3 linked regions of the Homo sapiens genome follow. The protein of the gene in region 2 purifies or fractionates together with the protein of the main gene of each other region. This does not show direct contact. Each region holds a gene or a part of one and is shown on either strand. Other genes may lie near its edges.

The links.
Region 1: the proteins of ZNF501 (region 2) and THUMPD3 purify together in Homo sapiens (affinity purification with mass spectrometry; 3 studies listed by BioGRID and IntAct, with this or other methods). This does not show direct contact.
Region 3: the proteins of ZNF501 (region 2) and ARIH1 purify together in Homo sapiens (affinity purification with mass spectrometry; 3 studies listed by BioGRID and IntAct, with this or other methods). This does not show direct contact.

The regions. Positions count from the first base shown.
Region 1 is NC_000003.12:9,373,030-9,380,057, forward strand, and holds part of THUMPD3 (tRNA (guanine(6)-N(2))-methyltransferase THUMP3), read left to right. Parts: intron 1-1,486; coding exon 1,487-1,617; intron 1,618-4,789; coding exon 4,790-4,859; intron 4,860-7,028. UniProt on the Homo sapiens protein: Catalytic subunit of the THUMPD3-TRM112 methyltransferase complex, that specifically mediates the S-adenosyl-L-methionine-dependent N(2)-methylation of guanosine nucleotide at position 6 (m2G6) in tRNAs.
Region 2 is NC_000003.12:44,725,671-44,732,660, reverse strand, and holds the start of ZNF501 (zinc finger protein 501), read right to left. Parts: upstream 3,027-6,990; 5' UTR 2,646-3,026; intron 1,186-2,645; 5' UTR 1,101-1,185; intron 1-1,100. UniProt on the Homo sapiens protein: May be involved in transcriptional regulation. Essential for Golgi structural integrity.
Region 3 is NC_000015.10:72,477,306-72,484,333, forward strand, and holds part of ARIH1 (E3 ubiquitin-protein ligase ARIH1), read left to right. Parts: intron 1-7,028. UniProt on the Homo sapiens protein: E3 ubiquitin-protein ligase, which catalyzes ubiquitination of target proteins together with ubiquitin-conjugating enzyme E2 UBE2L3.

The DNA of each region.
Region 1 (7,028 bases), about 35 Mb from region 2:
TGAGCCCAAGAATTTGAGACCAGCCTGGGCAAAATAGTGAGACCCTGTCTCCACTAAAAATAAAATAAATATTTTAAAAAATAAAATGAATAGGTTAACCAGAACAGTGATGTCTAAAAGTTAGCAAGGTGATTCAGAGGAGTTTCTGGAGCCGTGCTGCATTGGTTTAAATCCCAGAGGAGGCTGGGTGTGGTGACACACACCTGTAATCCCAGCACTTTGGGAGGTCAAGATTGGAGGATTGTTTCAGGCCAGGAGTTCTAGACCAGCCTAGGCGACATAGGGAGACCCTGTCTCTACAAAAAATAAAAAAAAAATTAGCTGAGTATGATGACAGACACCTATAGTCCCAGGTACTTGGGAGGCTGAAGTAAGAGATTGCTTGAGCCCAGGAAGTCCAGGCCACAGTGATCTGTGATCATGCCACTGCACTCAATCCTGGGCGACAGAGTGAGACCCTGTCTCAAAAAGGGAATTCCTGAGGAGCTGTCTTTGTGCCTCAGTATCCTCATTTATAAAGGGAATAATACCTAGCTTAGGGGATGTGAATATGAGATGAGGCCATGTATGTAAAATGTGTAGAATAGTGCTTTGCATTAGGAAGTGCTGTATGAGTATCAGCTGTGCTTCTGCTGTGGTTAAGCTCAGGAAGTCTTTCAGTGAAAGATTGGGGAACATTTTGGTTTAGTTTAGTTCACTTTTGAGACAGGGTCTCGCTGTATCACCCAGACTGGAGTGCAGTGGTGCAATCATGGCTCACTAAAGCCTTGACCTCCCAGGCTCAGGCTGTCCTCCCACCTCAGCCTCCCGAGTAGCTGGGACTGTGGGCCTGTGCCACTGCACTCAGTGTAATAAGACTTTTTATTTGAGACTTTACCAATTTTTAAAACTTTTTTGTTGAGATACACTTTGCACCCCTTAAGTACACAAATCTTAAGTTTTCAGTAAGTTTTTACTTATATACACGATGTGTAAACAGCATCCAGATAGAGATACAAACTATTTCCAGTACCTCGGGCTCCCCTTGCCCTTTCCCAGTCAGTACCCACTCAAGGCAATCACTAATCTGACTGCTACCACCAAAAATTCGTTTTGCCAATTTTTGAACTTCATATAAATGAAATCATATAGTATATAGTTTTTTTCGTTCATTTTAATATCTATTATTTTCTTTTAATTCACTATGTTTATTGGCTACAACCAGATTTCACCCCAATTTTTATAACACAAACATATTTTGAAGGCTTAGAGGTTTTTTAATATGTATTTTTTAAATGTCTTAACTTTTTAGACAGTTCTGGGCTGTGGTGCGCTATGCCAATCAGGTGTCTGCACTAAGTTTGGCATCAATATGGTGACCTCCCAGGAGTAGGGGACCAACAGGTTGCCTAAGGAGGGGTGAACCGGCCCAGGTCAGAAAAGTCTTATTACTAAGCGCAGTTTGAACAATCCTAAAACTATTTTGTCTTGTTCCACTTTGCTATAGGTTCTTTTGAACATCCATGATAATGAAGTCATTGTGGGCATTGCATTGACTGAAGAGAGTCTCCACCGAAGAAATATAACACATTTTGGACCTACAACTCTTAGATCAACTCTTGCCTATGGGATGCTCAGGTAAGAAAATGAGTTTGCCATCCAGCTTAAAGTGGCACCTTGGTTTGAATGTTCCCTTCAAAATACTGATTTGTGTGTATGTGTGTTTGAGGTACTGTGTTGGAATAGAGTGGATAAAGAATAGAATGGAAAGCTAATGATCTATTTCTTTCCCTTCTATCCAATATTGACTCCTTGTGATCTGAAAATACTGCTTAATAGGTGGCTCAGTTTTCTTTATTTCTTTTTTTGAGACAAAGTCTCACTCTGTCGCCCAGACTGGACTGCAGTGGCGAGATCTCAGCTCACTGTAACCTCTGCCTCCCGGGTTCAAGCGATTCTCCTGTCTCAGCCGAATAGCTGGGATTACAGGTGCCTGCCACCACGCCCAGATAATTTTTGTATTTTTTTAATAGAGACGACATTTCACTATGTTGGCGAGGCTGGTCTCAAATACCTGACCTCAGGTGATCCACCCGCCTCGGCCTCCCAAAGTGCTGGGATTACAGGTGTAAGCCACCGCGCCCGGTTTTCTTGATTTTAAAATGAGAGTAATAGTTTTCACCTGCCTCTTGAATGAGGTTACCACATTTCTGTTTAGCAAGGATATGTGTGTTGGGAGATAAGAGTAAATTTTGCTGTTTCATTTCTGTGCAGTGAAAAAGATGAAAGCAGAGATTTTTATGTGTATAACGTGTAAATGAACAGAAAGAGCTTTTACTTATATTTTTAAGCTTTATACTCACAGCAACTCAGGAATCATCCTAGAATTTTTTGCTTTTCAGAGTACACGACCTATCTTTCCTTCTCCTTTGCCCTTCTCTCTTTTATTGGGTGCTTCTTTCCACCACTTGAAAATGTTTATTTTCTCTAAAGCTTCTGTTTTCCAGATGGCAAAATGGATTTGATGTGAGACTTAAAGGATTATTAGTGAGGATTAAATGCTGAAGCATATGCAAAATACCTATTATATACAGTGCCTGGTATGTCCTGGTAGTTAAGTCCAGTCATGCATCACTTAATGACAGGGATACATTCTGAAAAATGTGTCATCACGCAATTTCATCATTGTGCGAACCTCATGGAGTGTACCTACACAAATCTAGATGGTGTAGCCTACTACACACCTGGGCTATGTGGTATCTCCTATTGCTCCTAGGCTACAAACCTGTACAGCATGTTATTGTACTGAATATTGTAGTCAGTTGTAACGCAGTGGTATTTGTGTATCTAAACATAGAAAGGATAGGGCAAAATATGGTATTATAATTACTGCATTCATATATTTGGTCCACCATTGATTGGAAGATTGTCATGCAGTACACGACTGTATTCCTTCTCTTCCAATCTTTTATCTTCCTAACATATTAATTCAATGACGATAATAGAAAATTGGGCCCATTTGATAAAGGAAAATCTTCTAGTCTTCATTAATTTAACAAATATGCATTATCTACTGCCAGGCATATGGTAGAAACCAGGGATACAGAGAGGGTGTTATTTTGGGTGCAAATATTTAAAACCTAAGTAATCAAGTTTAGGATAAAAAAGTGATAATTGTGCCAGAGAGGGGTTTATTGGAAAGATAAAGAGAAATCTTGGGGATTCTACAGAAAAACTGAATGTTGGTTCTCAAGAAGGGTAGGAACCACATCTTGGAAAACCACCAGAAATGTAGGCAGCCATTTTTATCTCCCCTTAGAGCCTGTGGACTCTTGTCTCTTCTCATCTACATGCTTTCTCATCTAAATTTATGTATTTCCAATTCCAAACGACCAACCCACACTGCCTAGGGCTTTTAGCTCTTTGTTCCAAATTCCTGGAAGAGAGGATCTGATGGACATTGTTTTGGTCAGATATTCACCCCTGACCATCAGGAATGGCTTGGAGTACAGGGTGCTTACCCCCTCAAGAGGGTTGCCAAGGATTCTATTGCCATGTGTTGAGGAGTAGGAGCAAGGAGATAGAGCAGGACCAATGTTACAATAAGAACCCACTATTAACCCCCAAGAATCTGTCTTGTGAGGGAGATAAATAGTTATCATACATGCGATAAGTCCCACACCAGCACATGAAAAGATTAGAAGAACAAGAGAAGGGAAGAAACCTACTGACCTGTTTCAGGGTGGGATGCTTCATAAAGAGGATAACAGTTAAGCCACTAACAGTAATGCCTCTAATCTTGAATCTGTTACCTACTAGTTTTGTGTCCCTGGGCAGGTAACTTCATGTTTCCTTGCATCAGCTTACCTTTAAAATGAGAATAATGATAATTATCTAACAGGGTCCTTACTGAGGATTCTGTGAGATAATGCATGGAAAGAGCTTAAGTCCATGCCCAGGAAATACTAAGTGCTCAAAGTAAAGCATTTTTTTTTCCTTTTTTTATTACCTAGTCCCACAGAGCAATTTTTTTATATCAAGATTAGCTTTAAATTCAGAAGGAAAGGAATACTGAATGTCTCATTGCCAGTAACCTTATATTGATGCATGTTTGACTTGAGACATTTTTGAGTCTTTTTAATGTAATACAGGTTTCTGTTGAAAACAACACTGTTGTCAAAAAGTATGCATGAGCGTGTGTGTGTGTGTGTGTGTACACATGTGTACTTTAAGATGTCTGCAAACTAAATTTCATCTGAGAGTGAAATGGGATTTTGGAAGATAGTCAAAGGAGATTTAGTTATAAGGATTTTTTTTCCCCAAGTAATGGAATATACAGTCAACATATCATTATAAATTGATTTTATTTATTTATTTATTTATTTTTGAGACGGAGTCTTGCTCTGTCACCCAGGCTGCATCTTACATGATCTTGGCTCACTGCAATCCCCGCCTTCTGGGTTCAAGCAATTCTCGAGTCTCAGCCTTTGTACTAGCTGGGATTACAGGCACCCACCACCACGCCCAGCTAATTTTTTGTATTTTTAGTGGAGACGGGGTTTCGCCATGTTGGCCAGGCTGGTCTTGAATTCCTGACCTCAAGCGATCCACCCATCTCAGCCTCCCAAAGTGCTGGGATTACAGGCGTGAGTCACCGTGCGCGGCCACAAATTGATTTCTAAAATATGTGTAGATTGGTGTTCCTTCGGGCTAGTGTGGTAGGTCCTCAATCTTAAAGCTTCAGGAATCATCAGTATAGAAGCCTCAGCTTTTGAGTGAGTCTTCACATAGGCTGTTTTCTTTTCTCTAGGCTCTGTGATCCTCTACCTTATGATATAATAGTCGATCCAATGTGTGGAACTGGGGCAATACCAATAGAGGTAATCATATTTCTTTAGCTTTTAGATAAGAGTGATACATCCAGAATATTCTAGACCTAATGGGCAAATTAGACATAATGAAATCTCCATGGTTGGATCAGTGGACCCAAGAGTTTTAAAACAATTAACAATAGAAAGTGGAACTTTTTTGTAAAGAATGTAACTACTTATTTCAAAGAGCCATGTGCCACTGGCCTAGATACATTGTTAGTGACATCTATTCACTAGATTACAGAGGAAGCTGAGAATTACAAACTGCCGATGAGTCCTCTTTGTGTAACAGACAAGCTGGTAGACTTGAATGGGAAAAGATAATTGAAGGCATAAGCATAAACTGGAGGAAGGCAATTTTCTTCTCTGTAATCCACTTAAGTTCCTAGAGGGAATAAGTATAGTTGTAAAAAGGGGAAACTTATGAACATTACTTGGATTTTTTAGGAAGTCTAACAAGCTTAATACCAAATGCTCTTAGTTTTCAAAATTACCATGATATTGAGAGGACTCATAAAAACTGTGTAAAGCAAAGCAAGAAATGGAAAGGCATTTTCTAAATGGAGAATATTTCACAGTAGATTCCCCTTGAATAATCAGTATCATCTATATGTTTTTAAAGAATTTAGAAGAGGGAGCTCCCAGTAAAATCACTGAAGTTTGTGTGAAACATAGTAGTTCTTCCATATAGTATACTGACAGCCAATTTGAATAAACTGCAGGGAGACACAGCAGATTATATGATTGGGTAGAAACTGGACAGATGAGCAAGTCCAAAGCAAGCCCACAAGGGGAGAAATAATCCAAACTGTAATTAGAAAATGGTATCTGTTCTGGGAGTTAAAATCCAAGACTGAAATCATAGAAGTCTACATGTGACTGTGTTCCGTGAAAGCTAGAGAAATTACTGTGGCTTAAAGAGACTGCACAGTAAAAACCCAGTCCTTCTTGTGGCCAAGAAGGATTCTGGGAAGAAAGCAGAGTGTTGTTTTCTAGTATGAAATCATGATATGTGTATGAAATAGCAGGTAAGGTCACCGCATGTCAAGAAATACACAACAGAGCTCCGAGTAAAAATAAAGGCCGAAAAAAATTAAAACATGAAGTTTGAGCCATTTCCATGTAAGAGTAGACATGCAGATGTCAATGTAGAAAAACCTAAGCCGATATATGATCAAAATGAATAAAATTATGAATAAATTGACAAGGTATATATAAAGATTTGTTCACCAAAGTATAAAATACTTGATCTAGAATAATTTTTTTTTTTAATTTAGAAGTGTTATGCTATAAAACCCAATTCTTTCCAATGCTGAAAATCCAAATAGGTTTAGGAAAAAAAAAAAAGAATATTTGGGAATCGGAATCACTGAGAGCCTTCCTCAAACTCTAGGTCCCCTCTACATCCCCACCCACCCAAAATTCTGGGATACTTCAACTTCCCTTTTGTTTGATGTCATCGTAGGATTGTAGACAGGGTATGTTATCACCCTCAAGTGTCTGGGCAAAAGAAAAAGTTATGAAACACTGCACTCATGGATGAGAAGTATGTTACTGTTCACAAAGGAACACAAAGGTGTTTGCTACTCACCCCTAAGCAGAGGCAGACCTTTCCCGGCTTTCGTGTCAGAAACCTTCTGTTAATCTGCATAGAACATTGTTCAGGCCTAGGGTCACGTCACCTCATTCCACAAATGACATGTGACAGCTTGGTATTTATGTTCTGCTGACAGGTTTTTTATTTATAATTACAAAATCCTTCCAGTGATATGGTGGTTACCATTCAAAAGCCTATCATACAAAGGAAATTGCATTTTACTATTATTTTTTTGACCTGGGGTCTTGCTCTGTCAGCCAGGCTGGAGTGCAGTGGTGTAATCTCAGCTCCCTGCAACCTCTGCCTCCCTGTCTTAAGCCATTCTCCCACCTCAGCCTCTCGAGTAGCTGAGACTCAGGTGCACACCATCACACCCAGCTGATTTTTGTGTTTTTGTAGAGATGGGCTTTCACCATGTTCCCAGGCTGGTCTCAAACTCCTGGGCTCAAGAAATCCTCCTGCCTCAGCTTCCCAAAGTGCTGGGATTTCAGGTGTGAGCCACCATGCCCGGCCGGAAATAGCATTTTATTTTGCAATTTTCAAATATATCAGATTATGTAAACTCCCACAACCACAAATCT
Region 2 (6,990 bases):
CTAAAAAATGTGTCTTAGAGATCACTTCATGTTGGTACATATGGATCTATTGGGGCTGAGAGTCAAATGATACACACTGCTATATCTGTACAAATTGTTCACGACTACCTGCTTGGGCAATGCCTGTACCATACTGTTTGTTAAATATGTGGACTATCTTACCTAAACCTATCTTTATCTGATGTATTAACTTACAACATGGATATGCTATATACAAAAACAAACTCCAGTTGGTTTAAGCAACCAGATGTAAAACCAAAACTCTAAGCACATTTTTAATTCCTTTACTCTCATTTTTCCAAAATAAAAAGGTTTTTTTCTTATCATACAAAGAATGCATGCTCATTCTATTAAATGGTCAGCTACTCCGAAGAGGAAATCACTTGAAACCCAGCCACAGAAAATAATAGTATTTTAATGGACCTTCTTCTAGGTATCTCTTGATGCATATAAACATAAATACGTACATAAGTGTACATATATTATGCATACATATTAAACTAATCCAAATTCTTCAGGACACAGTCATATTCTCTTCACAGAGTTCCCATAACCTAAGAATACAATTTACCCAGAATTATTTTACTGAGTTTGACAGACACCCAGGCTCCATGTTGCCTTTTGATTGCCAGTGACAATGTCAGCTGCAATAACTTAAGCTCTTGTTCTAAACATGGCCAGAAGCCCATTCCATATTCTCTGAGGAAATACCTAATCACATTTGCAATGGGTTTTCCAATAATTTACTACCCATATTCCTTGATCCAACCACTACACCATTAAGGCATCATACTGAGCAGTTCAATAAGTGGTTTAAAGATGTGCTACCAGATGACTGTAGAGTCTTCAGTTCAGGTACTCTGATAAGAACTTAGTGCACTCTAGGACCTGTCCCATAACCAATTATTCCATAGCCGTTTTCACAGTGGGCCACCCTCACTGATTTGAGTAAAATGGTATCCATTTCTGTGTGGTCCTGCATTTTCTGCTGGGTCCACATTTAGTGGACATTGGTGGGTCCCACCATAGGTCTGCCATCACTTCTGATGGTAGTCTCACAACCACCACCATCCTGGGCTCTCTAGTTAGAGTTAACTTACCAAGAGACAGGTTGTTAGGAGCACAAGCAATACTGGCTTTTCTCCTGGGGGCTCTTCTCTTGAGGAAAGGCAGGAATTTGAGGCACTGAGGGAGGAAAAAGAGCCACTCATAAATTGCCAGCCTACTTCCTACACCTTCTAGATTCAGGGTAACTCAAGAACATCCCATCTCTAACCAAATGACCATTTTAAGTTCAAATGAAAGAATATCGTTATTATCCTAGAGGAGTATCTCCAGTGACAAAAATTAGTGAGTTGGCAGACTTCAGAGAGATGTGACAATGTACAAAGAGGGCAGGTCCTTCCTAGGACTAAGCATCTGGGCGTAAAAATTTCTTTATACGACATCAGGTTGGAGCCCAATGGCTCCCCTAAGTCTACTGGAAAAGCCATTGATTTCAAAAGTCAAATGCTGCAGGGCTACAATAGAGGGCAGTAGGACCAGTAATGGACTCAGTCAAGAGGTGTGGATTCTAGTCTCAGCTCTGCCACCAATTTGTTCAATGACCTAACACAGGTCACTCAGTCTCATCCATTTCTTATTTGTTAAATGAAATTGAAAAGCTAGATAATATTTAAAGCTTCTTGTAATATCAACATTCTACAAAGCTTTGATTCTATATACAGATGGGAAAAGAGCAAAAACCTCAAATCAAGCCCTTCCAGTCCATCTTTGATTGAATCTGTTTATTCATTTATTTGAAAAGTACTAAATGAGCTAGCCGTGAGGTGAATGGGTCTTGTTAAGAACGGGCTGAATCAACAGCAGGGAAACTTCCTGTCAGTTATCCTCCTACAATTAGAATTGGGGGAATTTCTCGAAAATAACAAGAGGATTGCCTTTGTGTAAGGAGTATCTGCTGTAAGATGTTAAGGACTCTTCATAAGGGAAAGGTTTCAAGAACCCTCCTAATGCAAAGAACACTGTATTCAAAGGCAGGAACCTGGTTTCCTGTCTAATACATCCCAATCCACTAGCATCTCTTAACTGACACTGAACAAACTGTTTAATTATTTTCAAACGTCTCTTTTATTTCCTCATTTGGTCAAATAAGCCAGCAATTATTTTCAAGCTTGCAGTCAACCTTTAATATTTAGCTCAAATGTGAAACTTCACACCTCTTCCTTGTGGGAAAATTTTGACTTTTCCAAGGCCCTTCCTCGTCTACATTCTCAAAGAATTTTACAAGTTTCTACTGTAGGACTTTCTAGTCTGATTACATTCTGTCTTCCACCAGCAAACTTACAAGTATGGCATGGGCTCCAGGACTAGGACTTTTGAACAAGTTACCTAACCTTTTTTTGCTCCAGTTTTTTCAACTGTTAAATGGAGACGATACCAGTAACTACTTTATAGGGTTGTCGTAATGAATAAGTGGGTTACTACATGGCAACTACTTAGAAGAATGCCAGCTGGTAAGCATTCAATAAATAGTGCCTGCTGTTAAAGTATTGAGTCTACATGTCTTCATACGGTACCTATTTTGTTGTTGTTAGAGAAGAATAAATAATGAAGGGAAGGCACTAATTCTTGCATATACTTACTTCAACCCGCACAACTTTGGGAAACGGCAAGGCAGGAAACAGTATTTACTTCTGGAAATCAGAAAACTAAAGTGCCCAGAAGTTCACTGACATGCTTAAGTATGTATAAATCGAACCCAGGTCCTCCGACTCCCAGCCTAGGGCTCTCGAACAGCCTCTCCTTTCTTCATGGCAAGTTTGCCCTAGGCCTCGGGCCTCCGCTCCACAGGCCCTCCAGGAAGAAAAACGCCCTGCTTCCCGAGGGAGGAGCTGGAATCGACCCGCGGCAGCCGGGCACAGCAGAAACCGCTCACCATGCGCTTCCCGCGGCGCTCCCCGCGGCGCTCCCCTCTCGCACCTTGCAACACTCAGGTCCCTGGGTGCTGCCCTGCGGAAAGGAGTAAGTCCCGGACGCGCCCAGCCGGCGTGACGTCAGCAGTCCGCGCCTCGGCTAATAACCACTACCGTCTCCTCTCTAGGAAGGTGGGAGCGGCTTCCGCTCGGTGGTTCCTTCCCGCACGCAGCTACGGGTTTCGGTGCTGCGCCGGTTAAGCCGGCACCAGAAACAACCTGCGACCCCACCTGGCGTGCGTCTTCCAGCACAGGGAAACGGGATGGAAGTCAGAAGGGTCGACCACAAGGAGCTCTTACTGTGCATCAGTTCATCCTGCAAGTCCGCCACATTTAGCTTCCTATGTTACTGTCCTTTGGGGATTCTCAAGGCTTTTCACAAAACTGGCTTCCACCTTCCTCACACACATCCTCATCTGGAAGAAAACTGACCTCTTCACAGAAACCCCTGACACCTTACTGACCCAGGATCTTTGTTCAGGTGGCCAAAAGAAAAAGTTCTGCAGGCCAGGCGCGGTGGCTCACTCCTGTAATCCCAGCACTTTGGGAGGCCGAGGCGGGCGGATCACCTGAGGTCAGGAGTTCAAGACCAGCCTGCCCAACATGGAGAAACCCTGTCTCTACTAAAAATACAAAAATCAGCCGGGTGTGCTGGTGGGCGCCTGTAATTCCAGCTACTCCGGAGGCTGAGGCGCGAGAATCACTTGAACCTGGGAGGGGGAGGTTGCAGTGAGCAGAGACTGAGCCACTGCACTCCAGCTTGGGTGATAGAGTGAGACTCTGTCTCAAAAACAAAACAAAACAAATCAAACACTGCTTTGGGCTCAAATCCCTGATTCTCAGTGTATGAACTTTGCAACTTTACCTCTCTGTGCCTGCTTCCTCACTTACCAGGTATAATAATGGTACCACAGGGTTGTTGTGAGGATTAAGTGAGGTTAATACGTGTGAATTACTAAGAACATCTAGTATTTTTTAAATCTTCAGTAAATGTTAGGACTATTGTCTGTGTCTCAAATCCCAGCTCCAGTACCTATTGTTCTGCCCTGACTTCACTGACCTTTCAGGGCCTCAAGGTAGCACACCCATCCCTTTCTACAAAACTTCAGATCTTGCTGGCTCTAACTCAGGAAATATTTGCACACATGGGCTCATCTTGACAGGTAAAGTCCAGAGATAAAGGCATGAGTGGAGAGTACCTTATTCACTTCCAAGCATTCCTACTGATCTGCAATCTCAGGACAATAGGGCTGTGTGCACACCATCATATCCCTAGTGTGCAGCATATAGAAGTGAACACTTGCTGTATAAATTAATGAGATGCAGCAGAGAAATTATCCATTCCAGGCCAGGCATGGTGGCTCACACCTGTAATCCCAGCACTTTGGGAGGCCATGGGGGGCGGATCACGAGGTCAGGAGTTTGAGACCAGCCTGACCAACATGGCGAAACCCCGTCTCTACTAAAGATACAAAAATTAGCCGGGCGTGGTGGTGTGCCCCTGTAATCCCAGCTACTCAGGAGGGTGAGGCAGGAGAATCACTTGAACCTGGGAGGCGGACTTGCAGTGAGCCGAGATCATGCCACTGCACTCCAGCCTGGGTGACAGAGCCAGACTCCATCTTAAAAAAAAAAAAAAATATCCATTCCAATCTTCAGATTGGCTGTTTTCCCAAAATGGAGTCCCTTTTGGACACAAATCAGGAATGCTGGTGCCACAGACTGAGGCCATCGCTATCTTTGGCTAAAAAGTGACCCTTTGTAAAATTGTCAGTTGACATGCCATGTAACAATAATGTTAAGTTTCCCTCTCCAGGTGTCACATTCTCAGCACTTCTTTGGAATCAGATAGCAAGTTCTTCCCTCCAGCCCTAACATCTCACAGGCCAGAGACCCTAGGTCTAATTATTCATTCCCCAAACATTAGGCTTCAAAGAGTCTCCAAATCAGCAGGGTGTAGTGTGTGGAGGACATTAAGTCTGGAGGGAGGCACCTGAGGTTACTAGAAACCGTAATCTGGAGTTTAATAGCAGTTTGGGCTGAGCTTCTTTCAATGAGGTGGAAAACGGATGGTAGGGATGGACACCAAAAACGTTCCAAAACACTAAAATAACCTTAGCCCTGATGTGGCCACTGGATAAATGAAACTAATGCCACATATCGTCAAGATTAGGTTTCTACCTTATGTAGAAAGTAGGGGTCAAAAGGTATCATCAACTTACTTGTCACCCTCACACTCAGGAAAGTCTGAGATTTTGAGAACAAAAAGCTTCTCAATCTTATACAAGTGAGCTCCTCACATCCTCAGGATAAGGAAAAGATTGGAGCACTAAGTGGTCAATTCTAGGCTGGATGCAGTGGCTCAGGCCTGTAAGGGAGTCCGAGTTAGGAGGATCATCTGAGGGCAGGAGTTAGAGATGAGCCTGGGTAACATAGCAAGAATCTGTCTGTACCAAAAAATAATATTAAAAAACTTTTTTTTGAGACAGACTCTCACTCTGTCACCCAGGCTGGAGTGCAGTGGCATGATCTTGGCTCACTGCAACCTCTGCCTCCTGGGTTCAAGCAATTCTCCTGCCTCAGTCTCCTTAGTAGCTGGGATTACAGGCACGCGCCACCATGCCTGGCTAATTTTCATATTTTTAGTAGAGACGGGGTTTCACCATGTTGGTCAGGCTGGTCTCAAACTCCTGACCTTGTGATCCGCCTGCCTTGGCCTCCCAAAGTGCTGGGATTACAGGCGTGAGCCACCGCACCCGGCCAGAGAATACTTTTTAAAAATTAGCCAGGCATGGTAGCTCACGCCTGTAGTCCCAACTGCTTGGGAGGCTGAGGTGAGAGAATCGCTTGAGCCTGGGAGGTCTAGGCTACAGTGAGCTAGGATCACGCTACTGCACTCCAGCCTGGGCAACAGACCGAAACCATCTCAGAAACAAAAAAAAGTAGTCAGTTCTATAAAAAATAAAGAGGCATATGGAATAGAGGTATGACCAATACAGGGAAAAGTAAATGAAATGCAAGGACACTGCAGTTTAAACCTCATCTGACACTGGTTGTGTGGTCTTGAGCAACCCCAACATCTTTTCTCTTTTGTTCTGAGGATCTGACGTGGCTCCATCTGTGTCCTTCTAAAGTCATGAATTAAATTTCAGTGCACAATAAGCAAGACACTCAAATTCTTTATCATCCCAGGGCCCAAAATCTCAGGAAGTGCTTCCACTTTGGTACTTTTTTTTTTTTTTTTTTTTTTTTTTTTTTTTTTTTTAAGAGAGAGGGTCTCACTCTCTGATACGCAGGCTAGAGTGCAGTGGCATGATGCTAGCTCACTGCAGCTCCCAACACCTGGGCTCAAGCGATCCTTCCACCTCAGGCTCAGCATCCAGAATAGCTAGGACTACAGGCATGCACCACCATACCTGGTTTATTTATTTATTTATTTATTTATTTATTTATTTTTTTTAGACAAGGTCTTGTTATGTTCCACAGGATGCTCTTGAACTCCTGGCCTGAATCAATCCTCCCACCTCAGACTCCTGAGTAGTTGGGATTACAGGTGCAAGCCACCATGCCTGGCCCAGTTTGGGATTTGTAAACTGCAAATGCCCTCCTGCTAGGCCAGCATTACTCTTCAGTTCCTGCTATTTCATAGGTATTCCAGTTGACACAGGTGTGTTTCTGCAGTTGCATGCATTTTCCTCCTGTTGACCCTGACATCAATATAATTGAAAGCGTTTAGTTAAATTGTGATAGGACTTTTAAATCTCTAATTGAAAAATATTGTTTCTTATGGGATCTTCTGTTTAATACAATCTTAGGGAAAGTTTCAGAACTGTTGCTCCTGGCAGACACTTCGTGGACACGCATACTCACCATGCCTCCTTCCTGCTGACAACTGGGGACTTAAGTCACAACCTGCAGACTAGCACAGAGAAATGTCTGACTCTTCAGTTGAGTTCAACAAATGCTTATTGAGCACCTCCTAAGTACCAGGCACTGTTGATACAAAGGTAAAGAA
Region 3 (7,028 bases), on a different chromosome or scaffold from region 2:
TTTCTATTAATAGAGGTTGGAAATAGCAGTTATCTAGGTTTTTAATGTTGGTTTGATAAACACTGAATTTTACTTAGTTTGCATTAGAGAGCTTACTGTTAACTCTTAAACATTTAAATTCCCTGTTCTCAGTTCTAATTTTCAGTGTGAAATCAGGTAAGATACATTTGCAGGTGAAAAAGTTTGAAATGTAAAAAGATAACCAAATTAATTTAATATTTCCTTGGGAATTTGATTACTTTTTCTGGGAGAGGAGTTCTGGGCAACAACATAAATACTGTTATTTGTGGATATTTGCAGGTTAGGTTTGGTCTTCAAATAAGTCAACATTATTTTCTTTCAGAAAACTTGGTTTTCTGGCTTTCTATAATTTCCCAATTAACATTTAAATAAAAGACCAAATTAAACAATTAAACTTTATTTAATTTGGTCTTTTGTTTAAATGCTTTGTGGCTACCTAGCTTACCTTTTCAGCTTTTAAGGAAAAAAAAAATCAGAGTTTTTTATTTTGTTTTGTTTGGAGACAGCCTCACTCTGTCACCCAGGCTGTAGTGCAGTCGCGTGATCTCAGCTTACTGCAACCTCTCCCTCCCAGGTTCAAGAGATTCCCCTTGCCTCAGCTTCCCCCCCTACCCCAGTATCTGGGATTACAGGCACCTGCCACCAGGCCCAGCTAATTCTTGTGTTACAGGGTTTCCCCATGTTCATCATGCTGGTACTGAACTCCTGGCCTCAAGTGATCTGCCCTTCTCGGCCTCCCAAAGTGCTGGGATTACAGGTGTGAGCCACCATGCCTGGCCAGGGTGTTTTTTGTTATTTGTTTATTTTGAGACAGAGTTTCATTCTGCTGCCCAGGTTGGAGTGCAGTGGCGTGATCTCAGCTCACTGCAACCTCCGCCTCTTGGGTTCAAGCAATTCTCCTGCCTGAGCCTCCCGAGTAGCTGGGATTACAGGTGTGCACCACCACACCCAGCTACTTTTTGTATTTTTTAGTAGAGAGGGGGTTTCACCATGTTGGCCAGGCTGGTCTTGAACTCCTGAACCCAGGTGATCCACACAGCTGGGCCTCCCAAAGTGCTGGGATTACAGTCTTGAGCCACCGCGCCCAGCCTAAAAAGTAGTTTTCTAATGTAACTATATAAGTAGCTAGGTAATTTATTAAAAGAACCCTGTTCAATTCTGCAGTTGGGAGTATTTAAACTTGCCATTTTGTTTTTCCACAACAGTGTTCAGCAAATGTTGATTGTGCTTTCTAAGTATGCCAGGCATTATGTTAAGCAGAGGATATGCTCCTTGCCTAAGGAGCATATAGGGATAGGGAATATGGAGGTCCTTGAACTCCACTTCCAGAGATTCTTACTCATTAATGAAGTCTGAGGTGAAACCTTAGCATCTCTGTATTTTAGCCTTCTAGTGATAACCAAACCACTGGAATAGTGATAGTTAATCCACTGTCACGATTTTGACTCAGGCAGGGTGAGTAGAGTGAGAAGAGCAGCAGCTCTTAGGGGCACAGATTGGGTATACCTAATCAAAAAATCAGAAATGCTCTGAAATCACTTTGTGTTGTTGCCCAGACTGAAGTGCAATGGCAAGATCATAGCTCACTGCAACCTCAACTTCCTGAGCTAAAGTGATTCTCCCGCCTCAGCCTCCTGAGTAGCTAGGACTATAGGTGTGTGGCACCACTCCTAGCTAATTTTTTTTCTTTTTTGTAGAGACACAGGGTCTTGCTCTGTTGCCCAGGCCAGTCTCAAACTCCTGGCCTCAAGCGCTCCTTGAACCTCAGCCTCTCAAAATGGTAGGCCTGGAAATCCAAAACTTTTTGAGCACCGTTGTGATGCTCAAAGGAAATGCTCACTGCAGCATTTTGGATTTCGGATTTTCAGATTAGGGATGTTGATTGTAAGTATAATTAAATATTCCAAATCTGAAAAACTTCTGGTCTCAAGTATTTTGGATAAGGAATACTCAACCTGTACCATATTTAGAGTGTGTGCCGAGAGGAATATGGACCTGGGACTATTGAATGTGAGTGGTCAGAGGAGGTATAAAAAACAGTGGATAGGTATCTTGCTTTTATAAGATCTGTTATGCTAAATAACTTTTTTTTTTTTTGGAGACGGAGTCTTGCTCTGTTGCCAGGCTGGAGAGCAGTGGTGGCGTGATCTTGGCTCAGTGCAACCTCTGCCTCCTGGGTTCAAGCGATTCTCCTGCCTCAGCCTCCTGAGAAGCTGGGACTACAGGTGCGCGCCACCACACCCAACTAATTTTTGTATTTTTAGTAGAGACTGGGTTTCACCATGTTGGTCAGATGGTCTCAACCTCTTGACCTCGTGATCCGCCTGCCTTGGCCTCCCAAAGTGCTGGGATTACAGGCGTGAGCCACCGTGCCCAGCCAAATAACTCATTTTAAAGAAAAAAATATCTAAGCCTTACTGAAGAAATTTTCTGTTGGCTGTTGGTTCGAAAGCTGTATTTCACTTATTTAATTAAGAGATTTAATTAAAGAACCTCAAGTTGAGGTTGCAAGCCTAAACTAAGGAAGACAGTGTACTATTCTTTTTTTTTTTTTCGTTTGAGACGGAGTCTCGCTTTGTTGCCCAGGCTGGAGTGCGGTGGTGCGATCTCGGCTCACCGCAAGCTCCGCCTCCTGGGTTCACGCCATTCTTCTGCCTCAGCCTCCCGAGTAGCTGGGACTACAGGCAGCCGCTACCATGCCTGGCTAATTTTTTTGTATTTTTTAGTAGAGATGGGGTTTCACCATGTTAGCCAGGATGATCTGGATCTCCTGACCTCGTGATCCGCCCACCTCGGCCTGCCAAAGTGCTGGGATTACAGGCATGAGCCACCGTGCCCGGTCAACAGTGTACTATTCTAGCATATTGTTTACTGATTGGGGAGTCAGTTATAGCCCTGGTTTTTACTCTGTCTAGTTAATATCTCAGAACCTTCAAATTTTTTTTTTTTTTTTTTATACATGTCTCACTGTGTCACCCAGGCTGGAGTGCAGTGGCCTGATCTTGGCTCACTGCAACCTCCACTTCCAGGGTTCAAGCGATTCTCCTGCTTCAGCCTCTCAAGTAACTGGGATTACAGGCACGCGCCACCACACCCAGCTATTTTTTGTATTTTATTAGAGATGAGGTTTCACCATGTTGGCCAGGCTGGTCTCGAACTCCTGACCTCAAATGATCGACCTACCTTGGCCTCCCAGAGTGTTGGGATTATAGGCATGAGCCACGGTGCCCAGCCACACTTTTTGTTGTTGTTGTTGAGATGGAGTTTCTCTCTTGTTGCCCAGGCTGGAGTGCAATGACGCGATCTCAGCTCACTGCAACCTCTGCCTCCCAGGTTCAAGCGATTCTCCTGCCTCAGCCTCCTGAGTAGCTAGGATTACAGGCGTATGCCACCACGCCTGGCTAATTTTGTATTTTTAGTAGAGATGGGGGTTTCTCCATGTTGGTCAGGCTGGTCTCAAACTCCCGACCTCAGGTGATCTGCCCGCCTCGGCCTCCCAAAGTTCTGGGATCACAGTGAGCCACCTTGCCCGGCCTTGTTTTGTTTTTAATCTGGGACTGAAAATGAGGGAGTTGAAATACTAGGTTGGTCCTTTTTTACATTAAGTGTTTTATTCGTTTAACATCATTTTAAAAACCTCAGTTAATTGGAGATGTTCATTTTTTCCAAGAAATTGAATTCAGGTGTGCATATTGTGGTTATGTTCATTAATTGGGAGAGGAGGAAGAGGGTGTACAAGCCTGTGCATGATGTGTGCAGGCACATGTGTTTTGAAGTTATTAAAGTGTTTGATATAGTTTAGATTTATTTCTTTTGGACTTTTATATTTTCCCAGCTGATCTCCTTGAGCTGTAAGTTTAAATTACACTGACTTGTTGAATTGCTATGGCAGTAGTCCTATGAATCAAACTCTGGGGATGGGGTCTGGCTGTCTGTTTTAACAAGCCTTCTAGGTGATGGTGATGCAAGCTAAAGTTTGAGAACTGCTGATGTAGTTGAAATTTAATAGCAGTGTTTCTCTATGTGTTACGTGTAGTGATAGATTACTACAGAGGTGGGTTAATGAGGGAAGATAAATTGTTTAAGAAACTAATAATAGGGGACCAGTCACGGTGGCTCACACCTGTAATCCCAGCACTTTGGGGACTGTGCCAGGCAGATCACTTGAGGTCAGGAGTTTGAGACCAGCCTGGCCAATATGGTGAAACACTAGCTGGGCGTGGTGGCCTGTGCCTGTAATCCCAGCTACTTGGGAGACTTGAGGCAGGAGAATTGCTTGAACCTGGGAATTGGAGGTTGCAGTGAGCTGAGATAGTGTCACTGCACTCTAGCCTGGGTGACAGAGGGAGACTCTACTTCAAAAAAAAGGTAATAATGGGAAAATTTCCAGAACCTAGGCAACGTTTACTAGGCTAATCATAGGGTTGGAAGATGTTTGTCATCGTAGATGCTATCCTTCATGCTATGCTATCCTTCAGCTAAGGTGGTCTTTACTCAGTATTTTCTTTTCTTTTCTTTTCTTTTTTGGAGACAGAGTCTTTTCTCTCTTGCCCAGGCTGGGGTGCAGTGGCGCCATCTCGGCTCACTGCAACCTTCGCCTGCTGGGTTCAAGCGATTCTCCTCCTTCAGCCTCCCGAGTAGCTGGGATTACAGGCGCCCACCACTACGCCCGGCTAATTTTGTATTTTTGGTAGAGACGGGGTTTCACCATGTTGGCCAGGCTGATCTCGAACTCCTGACCTCAGGTGATCCACCCGACTTGGCCTCCCAAAGTGCTGGGATTACAGGCATGAGCCACTGCACCCGGCCAGTATTTTCAAATAGACAAACTAAACTAGTGACATCTGACATTCTAGATTGGAGTTCTTGATTTCCCTTCCAGTCCTAGATTTTTTTAATATAGAATGTTGAGTTTTCTAATTTATTAGTATGCTGGAAGAGATATAAAGTCCTGGATAGATATAAAGTCCTGTTTAAAGGAATATGAGAAGACTTATTCTTAAGGAGTTGAGAATCTCTTAGAGTTAAAGCTGTTAGGTTAGTGAGTAATTTAAATAAGTGGATAGTAATAGATACTCATGGAAGAGACCTCTGTAGGTGTTGTCAAAGATGGCTAGGATTTGGGTGGATAAAAAAGAGGAAGTCATTCTAAGGAACTGAATGAGGTGAGAATGAGGAGAGTTTTTGGGTAATGGTGAAATCAGCTAAAGTAGAATGGAGCTTATAAATGCTGGATAATAATGTAGAACCTGGGAGATTAAATACTGTGATGAAAGGTAAGCAGAAGTCATCACATTAGATTCTTTTGGGGTTGACCTGTGGTAACTATGTAGATTGGTTATCTTTTGCCTTATGTTACCCCAAAACTTAGTGGCTTAAAAAAACAAGGATCTGTTATATCATAGTTTCTGTGAGTCACAATTCTGGATGCAGCTTACCTGGGGGCCTCTGGCTTATGGTCTCTTACAAGGCTGCAACCAAGGTGACGGCTTGGTAGCAGTTCTCTCTCTCTCTTTTTTTTTTTTTTTTTTAAAGACAGAGGCTTGCTGTGGTGCCCAGGCTGGAGTGCAATGGCATAATCTCGGCTCATTGCAACCCTCACCTCTTGAGTCCAAGTGATCCTCTTACCTCAGCCTCCTGAGTAGTTGGGACTATAGATGTGCACCACCACACCCCAGCTTATTTTTTTGTTTTTGTGGGTTTTTTGGTAGAGACCAGTATTTTTTTGTTTTGCCATGTTGCCTAGGCTGCTCTTGAACACCTTAATTCAAGGGATCTGCCCGCCTTAGCCTCCTAAAGTGCTGGGATTACAGGCATGAGCCACCGTGTCTGGCCTGGGTAGCAGTCCTCAAGGCTTGACTGGGGAAGCTTCCCCTTCCGAGCTCACTCATTTGGCTGTGACCAGGCCAGATTTTCACTGGCTGGTTGTTGCCCAGAGATATCAGTTCCTTGCCATGTGGGCCTCTCCATAAAGTGGCTGACAACACAGTAGCTTGTTTCCTCCAGAGTGAGGGATCTTAGAGAAAAGGCCCATACGATGGAAGCCACAAAGTTTTTATAACTTAATTTCAGAAGTAACGTCGCATCACTTTGCAATATTCTATTTGTTGTAAGTGAATAACCAAATCCAGCCCATACTCAATCGGAGGGGATTATACAAAGATGTGAAGACCAGGAGGCAGGGGTCTTTGGGGGCTATCTTAGAGGCCGGCTGTTTGTCTCTGTCTCTCTCTGTTAAGAGGTAAATTACAGCTATTGTATAATGCCTTTCTATCCAATCTTTTTGTATGCTATTGGGAGAACATAGTGTTTTGGATTTTTTATTTTGGATTAACCGTAAATTAATTACTTTTGGCTTTGCAAAACATTATACCTGTAAATGATAAACATTCCTAATAACCTTTCAGTGGCTTAAGTTTAAAATAGCTTGTAGTCTCAGAATTGGTAGGAATTTGAGATTCTCCAGTTTACTGATTTTTTTTTTTTTTAACTCTAGCTACGTAATGGAATCACCTGGGGATTTTTTTCATTACTGTTTTTAAAATAGAAAATTGTAGATTCACAGCCGGGCATGGTGGCTCACGCCTGTAATCCCAGCACTTTGGGAGGCCGAGGCAGGCGGATCACCTGAAGTCAGGAGTTCGAGACCAGCCTGGCCAAATGGCGAAACCCCGTCTCTACTAAAAAAATACAAAAATTAGCCGGGCATGGTGGTGGGCGCCTGTAATCCCAGCTACTCGGGAGGCTGAGGCAGGAGAATCACTTGAACCCAGGAGACAGAGGTTGCAGTGAGCCAAGATTATGCCATTGCACTCCAGCCTGGGCAACAAGAGTGAAACTCCATCAAAAAAAAAAAAAAAAAAGAAGAAAAGAAAAGAAAATTGTAGATTCACATGCAGTTACAAGAAATAATGCAAAAATCCCACATATTCTTTTTTCCAAAAAATTTTATTTCCCTAGGTTATTGGGGAAGAGGTGGTATTTGGTTACATAAGTAAATTCTTTAG